2 separate regions of the Homo sapiens genome follow, and region 1 is reported to be linked to region 2. The links are microRNA targets in miRTarBase. Many come from high-throughput screens and were not tested one by one. Region 2 holds a microRNA gene; the other region holds the end of a gene's coding sequence.

Region 1 (3,383 bases), not on the chromosome of region 2:
TGATGCACGGAGGCGGGGAAAGGATTTAGAGATAACGTGGTTTGAAAGGCGGGACCTGGTGCGGGGACGCTCTTGGGAGGAGTCTTCTCCCCAGCCTTAGCTGGTTTCATGATTTCTTTGCGTCTGTAGGCAACGCGGTAAAAATATTGCTTCGGTGGGTGACGCGGTACAGCTGCCCAAGGGCGTTCGTAACGGGAATGCCGAAGCGTGGGAAAAAGGGAGCGGTGGCGGAAGACGGGGATGAGCTCAGGACAGGTAAGGGAATGAAATCAGCCCTTCTTCCTAGAAGCTGCGGCGGGGGTGTTTGTCATTCCCTTGATGTACGGTAAGTACGGGCCGACTCATTTTTGCAGGGGTTTGTGAAGAAGTCGCAGGAACCGTAGGCTTTCGTTGGGTCTATAGTTAACGCCGGATCGCAGTTGGAAACCACCAGCTTTTTGTCAGTATATATTACTCATTTTATAGAGCCAGAGGCCAAGAAGAGTAAGACGGCCGCAAAGAAAAATGACAAAGAGGCAGCAGGAGAGGGCCCAGCCCTGTATGAGGACCCCCCAGATCAGAAAACCTCACCCAGTGGCAAACCTGCCACACTCAAGATCTGCTCTTGGAATGTGGATGGGCTTCGAGCCTGGATTAAGAAGAAAGGATTAGATGTGAGTGGAATTTGAGGGAAAGAGACATTTTTTAGTATTGAATGGTCTTAGGGTTTAGTCACCCCTTTTCTCCGTTTAGCCTTCAGGCTGTTTTATTTTTCTCCTGCCCGTAGTTTTCTGTGGGGCTTCCCCAGTCTTGCCAGTTGTATTTCCTAAATGTCTGTTCCTTCACTTCCATTGCCATTTTCTTTTTTAGTGTTCTCTCCTCTTCCCAGAATGTTGCAAAAACCTCTTCACTATACTTCCTCCATTTTATCTTCCTGCATTGCATTCCATATGAAGCATGTCCTCCATTCCATTAACCATAGCTTAAAAATCTTAGCTTGCTATCCACTGCCTATAGAAAAAACACATCTCCTTGGCATAGCATGTAAGACTTTCTTACCTCTCTATATTTGTTTTCATTTATCTAGCTTAGAATTGTTTGAATATTGTGCTGCTTGACTCGAACTCCTTAGGCCAAGAGACTGTTTAACCCGTGCGTATCTATGACTTAGCATATAGATTATTCAATAAATGTTCTGCTGAATTGATAATACGTTTTCCACCTTTCTTTTCACTTACAGTGGGTAAAGGAAGAAGCCCCAGATATACTGTGCCTTCAAGAGACCAAATGTTCAGAGAACAAACTACCAGCTGAACTTCAGGAGCTGCCTGGACTCTCTCATCAATACTGGTCAGCTCCTTCGGACAAGGAAGGGTACAGTGGCGTGGGCCTGCTTTCCCGCCAGTGCCCACTCAAAGTTTCTTACGGCATAGGTGAGACCCTATTGATGCCTAATGCCTGAACTCTTCAAAACCAATTGCTAATTCTCTATCTCTGCCCCACCTCTTGATTGCTTTCCCTTTTCTTATAGTTTTTTATGCTAATTCTGTTTCATTTCTATAGGCGATGAGGAGCATGATCAGGAAGGCCGGGTGATTGTGGCTGAATTTGACTCGTTTGTGCTGGTAACAGCATATGTACCTAATGCAGGCCGAGGTCTGGTACGACTGGAGTACCGGCAGCGCTGGGATGAAGCCTTTCGCAAGTTCCTGAAGGGCCTGGCTTCCCGAAAGCCCCTTGTGCTGTGTGGAGACCTCAATGTGGCACATGAAGAAATTGACCTTCGCAACCCCAAGGGGAACAAAAAGAATGCTGGCTTCACGCCACAAGAGCGCCAAGGCTTCGGGGAATTACTGCAGGCTGTGCCACTGGCTGACAGCTTTAGGCACCTCTACCCCAACACACCCTATGCCTACACCTTTTGGACTTATATGATGAATGCTCGATCCAAGAATGTTGGTTGGCGCCTTGATTACTTTTTGTTGTCCCACTCTCTGTTACCTGCATTGTGTGACAGCAAGATCCGTTCCAAGGCCCTCGGCAGTGATCACTGTCCTATCACCCTATACCTAGCACTGTGACACCACCCCTAAATCACTTTGAGCCTGGGAAATAAGCCCCCTCAACTACCATTCCTTCTTTAAACACTCTTCAGAGAAATCTGCATTCTATTTCTCATGTATAAAACTAGGAATCCTCCAACCAGGCTCCTGTGATAGAGTTCTTTTAAGCCCAAGATTTTTTATTTGAGGGTTTTTTGTTTTTTAAAAAAAAATTGAACAAAGACTACTAATGACTTTGTTTGAATTATCCACATGAAAATAAAGAGCCATAGTTTCAGCCTTGCTGTCTTCGTGTCTTACCCCTTCGTGGGGCTACACATTCTCTTCCTCATATTTTCATGCACACAAGTTAACAACTGAAAAAGCGTAGAGTCATGACCTTATTTATTTACAAGCACAGGATAAGTCCCTAACCTCCCCCAAAGACTGAGCAACCCTACCCAGCCCAGTTAAATACTGCAACTGGGGGGGTAAAAAAGGTCGGGAGGAGGAATTAAGGGAAATACAGGAATAGGGGAACATATCCCACATTAAATAGTTATATACACATCAGTTCCTGTGGTTCTGTACAGAGCAGCGGCTGACCCCACCCCCACAGGACACAATGTGGGGAGAGGAGACTGAGGGTACTGAGGCCAGAGCCAACCTCTGGTGAAGTGCAATAGCAGCAGCAAAGTCCTAATGGTGCACAAGAGGGAGGGGAACCCCCAGGGCTACCCACCCCCACCCTGCCCTGGAATGTGTAAGGGACAGGAATGGCTCTCAGGGAGCACACAGGAAGGACAAGGCTGGAACCGTCTTCAGGGCCCAGTTTTAAGGGCAACGTTTTGCCTACTTCACCCTAGACACAGCAACCCTTGGAGGAAAGCAGATGGTCAGCAGTGCTCTTATCTGCCCCTCCAAACCTAAGTGAGGGCCTGGTTCCTTCCTACCTCTCCCCAGGGAAAAGGAAGGCAGCTGCTTGGCTTCCTTCTAGAAGCCCCGGGAGCCTTTAACTACCCCAGCTCCCTTCGTAGTGTCACTGTCCCCACCAGGGAGGGGCCAGGCACAGTCTGTGGGTCATCAGGCTCAGGAGAAGTTCTGGACAGGGTGGCTGACCTTCATACAGGCCCAATAAAGAGCCCGGCCCAAACACAGCACAGCCAACAGGATGACAAATGCCCAGGCTGCATAGATGCCTCCATATCGCCGTGCATGCTTCCATGTGCCAAACTGATGAAGATAAGGAGGGAGAAGAAAAGAAAGATGGGGTTAATGTTGGTCTCCACTACCTCCTATTAGTTCTAAGAACAGTAATAACTCACGCTTCAGTCCTTGTTCCTTATCCACATGTAGCCACCC
Region 2 (3,783 bases):
GAGAAGGTCCTAGCTTACCCCTGTGTGCTGGCCTTGGATTCAGCCCCGAGAGAGGGGAGAGACCATTCCTCCTGTGGAGTGGGTTCCTTATCACCAGACCGGCCACTCTCAGAACTGGCGTCCACTGTAAATCCAGGTGCCTTACGTGTGGCTCTGTCCCTTATGCTGCAGGGGAAAGCTGCATTGCCATTGTTCCCACCTCCTCACTGGCAGAAAGATGCCAGGGCTGTTAGCACTGTCTCCTCACCTTCTGTTTCTCATTGTGGCTCCTCAAATGGGATTTGCATGTTCCTGTCAAGCGTAACAACAATCCCTTCTCTCTTTGACAGAGGCCCAGGTGGGACAGTTTCTACTATTTGATATTTGAGTATTATCTGGGATGTGGTTCTGGAGCTGCCCAGAGCTGTGCTTAGTAGAGTGTGTCTTGGAAACATGCCCCTGGGCACACTGTATCTGCTACATTAGTGGGCTATCTCTTATCTGCAGTGTTCGCTTTTGCTAGAAAGAGGATGTGGAGGAAGGAGGAGGTGGGCAATCTGGCTTGAGTTGTGCTGTATCCTCTTCCTTGTTAGCTTGCCTTAGTCTCACTGGAGACCATTTGCGGATAGTGCTTGGTCCATGCCCAGCAGGACAGGGCTTTGCTGCTTCTGAAAGTCTGGTGTTCTGTATCTGGGGCTGTGGGTTCCTGTGTCTAGCTGCTCAGGAAATCTTGAGAAGCATTCCACTCTGGGGTGTAAACCAGTATGAGTTTGAAATTCAAGCGTTTGTACCTGAGTTGGGGAGAGAATTGCAAGGCATACTTTCTCTGAAAGTAACAGAACCATTCAGGCTGCCATGTTATTAAGGAATCTGAACTGTTGATAGCAGTTACCTTGTGGGTGATACAATGGGAGGCGGCAAAAAAACTACCTGCATAGGAGACCCTGCCCTTTGTCAAGAGCTGGGAGCACATTTCATCAGAGTAGCAGGCCCACCTGGTGCCAGAGGGCCTGCCCCTCCTGCTTCTGTTCCTTTGCCTTGCAGTCTCCTGGAGAGAGCCTCTCTTTTCCTGTACAGCCTTTGGGCCAAAATGCCCTTCTAGCTTCTCCAAAGAAGATCCGAGTTTATTTCATTCTATGTTTTAAGAGGTAAAAGGACATAACAAGTGAAAGAAGTTTTGGGCTAAAGTAGGCTATGTCTCCTTATGTATTACTCAATACTGTTTTGCAGAGAAAACATTTTTCAAGCATGTGCTTCCTGAAGACACCTCAGTCTTTGGGCCATTTGATTTCCAATACATAGGGTGGAAGAATGTGATTTTGGGGCTGACCATAAACTGGAAATTTGTGAAATGGCAGTGATTGGGCAATCTTCAGTTTATTTTTTCAGTTGAAGTGGAACTCATTTCTGGAATGGATTTAATAGGCTGTGTCTAATGTACAAACTGGGTGAGTCCTGCCTTAGTGTGTCCTGCCCCACCGGTACGCTTCCAGGATACTCTTTTCCCCTCTGTAAAGTCACTTTCTTCTGATGGCCAGTGTCACTATGATGTCAGTGAGGTCTGGGGATGAGGACAGTGTGTCCTGAAATTCACAGGACTGACTCCTCACCCCAGTGCACGAGGATTCCTGTGGCATCAGGTGCTGCTGTACCTGGTGTAGGAGCCTAATCATTGAACCATTGTGTTACTCACATTCCATGTCACAGAACATATCAGCCTCAAGAAGGATTTGGTGGAGGTGGATTTACCACTGGTTTTACAAAGGACCGTGTAAAGTCATTGAAGTTGTGAAAGTCTATTTTTTTTCCTGTAAATCTATTTTTTACAGAATATAAGAAACATCAATGACCTGATCTGTCCTTCCTCCTCCTTCCCGCTTCCCCCAAAATCACATTCCAGTTTTTATTGTCTTTGTGTCCAAAGTAAACTAGGTGACTTATTTGTATAAAATGTTATTTTGCCACATGAGACAGTAATAAAAGAAAGATTTTCACAGTACGTCTCCCTCGTCCTGTCTCCTGATTGTTGGGCCCGTTGTGTTGCTGAGGGGAGCAGGGGCGAATGGGGGCTCCAGGTTTCTCTTACTTTGGCTATTATGTGGCCCTTCTGTAAGTAGTTGAACTAGAGTATAGCTGGCTTCTAGGGTGATTGAGGAATTGTACTGGACTTTAGGCTTAATATTTTTGCTTTATATTTTCCCAGGGTGAGTGGCTTTGTAAATTGAAAGTTTACATGCATGTTTTAAAGGTAGGGTTTTTTTTTTTGAGATGGAGTTTCGCTCTTTTTTCCCAGGCTGGGATGTGATGGCATGATGGTGGCTCACTGCACCCTTCGCCTCCCGGGTTCAAGTGATTGTCCTGCCTCAGCCTCCCAAGTAGCTGGGATTACAAGTGCATGCCACCACGCCCGGCTAATTCTGTATTTTTGGTAGAGACAGGGTTTCCCCATGTTGGCCAGGCTGGTCTTGAACTCCTGACCTCAGGTGATCAACCCGCCTTGGCCTCCCAAAGTTCTGGGATTACAGGTGTGAGCCACTGTGGCTGGCCATAAAGGTAGGCTTATTAAGAAATACTTTAACTACAGTAAAATTTACCTCAATTAAGAGTATTGATGCATTTTGACAAATGAATACTTTTATTACCCATCACAATCATGATATAGGACATTTCCATCGTACCCACTCAGAAAGTTCCTGAGTTCCTTGTGTTTGCAGCCAGGTGACTTCCCCCACTTCGCCTCTTGCAACCACTATCTGATTCTGTCTCTATTGGAAAACTTGGATACTTTTAAAATGAAATTTGAACGTTCATATTTACAGTCACAAATTCTCAAGAGTCTGGTTTAGATGCTCTGTGGCACCTGAAGCAATTATTGGCCTTTGCTCACAAACACAACTCACTTATTTCTCCCTTTTCTCCTGCTTCTTCATCGTTTCTTCCACCCAGGGCTGGTTCCCAGGTGGGATGACGGAAAGGTGAGGAAGCCCTTAGAGCATTTGCCAATGGGAGCCATTCATTTGACTTTAAAGTACTGAGAATTTAGAGGCGTTCTTTTAAATGCATTATTTAAAAAGAAAGGTAACACATTAAGGACTTTGCTGCATCTTTTGATTGGCTTTCTTCTAGGAAGTAGTGACCGAGGTTTCCACTTTCCTCCAAGAGGAAGAGACAGAAGTTTTGGCAAATAGGTCAATGCTGGGAACAGATGCCTGCCTGGCTGAGTGCTGGGAAAGAAAGGCAGTTGGAGGGATGTGTGGGTGCCTGGGAGGGCGTGGGTGGTGCCCAGGAGGCTATGGGAATCAGAATCACACTTGCACAAGAGAAGACCCTTATGGGACAAGTAAAATCAGCATAGTTTCTTGGGCGGGGCAAAGGTGTCCTGATGAGGATGCTAGGGGTCAAATATGTGTCTGGGTTCTGCCCCAATCGGGAATGAGACACAGTACTGAAGTGGAACGGGGGTAGCATCTCCACCCACCTTCACAGCCTCTGGGGAAAAGAAAGCTTTCCTTGCAGCCCAACTCCAGGGGCCTAAATATTGAGCACCAACACAAGACAGGTCCTTGAGCTTCTCGGAGCGAGTCGGGGAAGCAGATAATTTCAGATGCAAAGTGCCTTGAATAAACAGAACGAAAGATAGAGAGCCAGAGGGGGAGAAACGGCTTGGTGTGGTCAGGGCAGGCATCCATGAGACCTAAACGAAGAGGGGGCATTCCAGACAAAAGGAACAGTGATCACAGAGGCCCCGAGTCAGGAACCAGCTAAGGGTCTTAGAGAAGAGCTGCCTCGTAAAGCTAAGCAACA

The links. Region 2 holds the annotated microRNA hsa-miR-4700-3p (CACAGGACUGACUCCUCACCCCAGUG, at 1,571-1,596, shown strand). A microRNA usually pairs through its seed, bases 2 to 8, with sites in the 3' UTR of a target mRNA and lowers its output. Matches are read on the target gene's strand: a 7mer-m8 pairs with bases 2 to 8, a 7mer-A1 pairs with bases 2 to 7 and ends in A, and an 8mer does both.
Region 1: the mRNA of PIP4P1 is a reported target of hsa-miR-4700-3p. Seed matches in the 3' UTR shown: 7mer-m8 at 2,637-2,643 and 7mer-A1 at 2,546-2,552.

The regions. Positions count from the first base shown.
Region 1 is chr14:20,455,449-20,458,831 of GRCh38, forward strand. It overlaps PIP4P1 (phosphatidylinositol-4,5-bisphosphate 4-phosphatase 1), which reads right to left. Exons shown (of 7, transcript NM_144568.4): 7 at 2,233-3,254. The coding sequence ends at 3,111. APEX1 (apurinic/apyrimidinic endodeoxyribonuclease 1) reads left to right here. Exons shown (of 5, transcript NM_001641.4): 2 at 130-255; 3 at 466-653; 4 at 1,220-1,412; 5 at 1,543-2,319. The coding sequence starts at 198. The coding sequence ends at 2,060. Among named protein-coding and RNA genes, the nearest start is that of APEX1, 1.9 kb to the left of the region's middle. RefSeq lists an enhancer at 1-41 and a silencer at 1,642-1,936.
Region 2 is chr12:120,721,663-120,725,445 of GRCh38, forward strand. It overlaps MIR4700 (microRNA 4700), which reads left to right and starts at 1,531; the gene lies at 1,531-1,604. It overlaps UNC119B (unc-119 lipid binding chaperone B), which reads left to right. Exons shown (of 5, transcript NM_001080533.3): 5 at 1-1,978.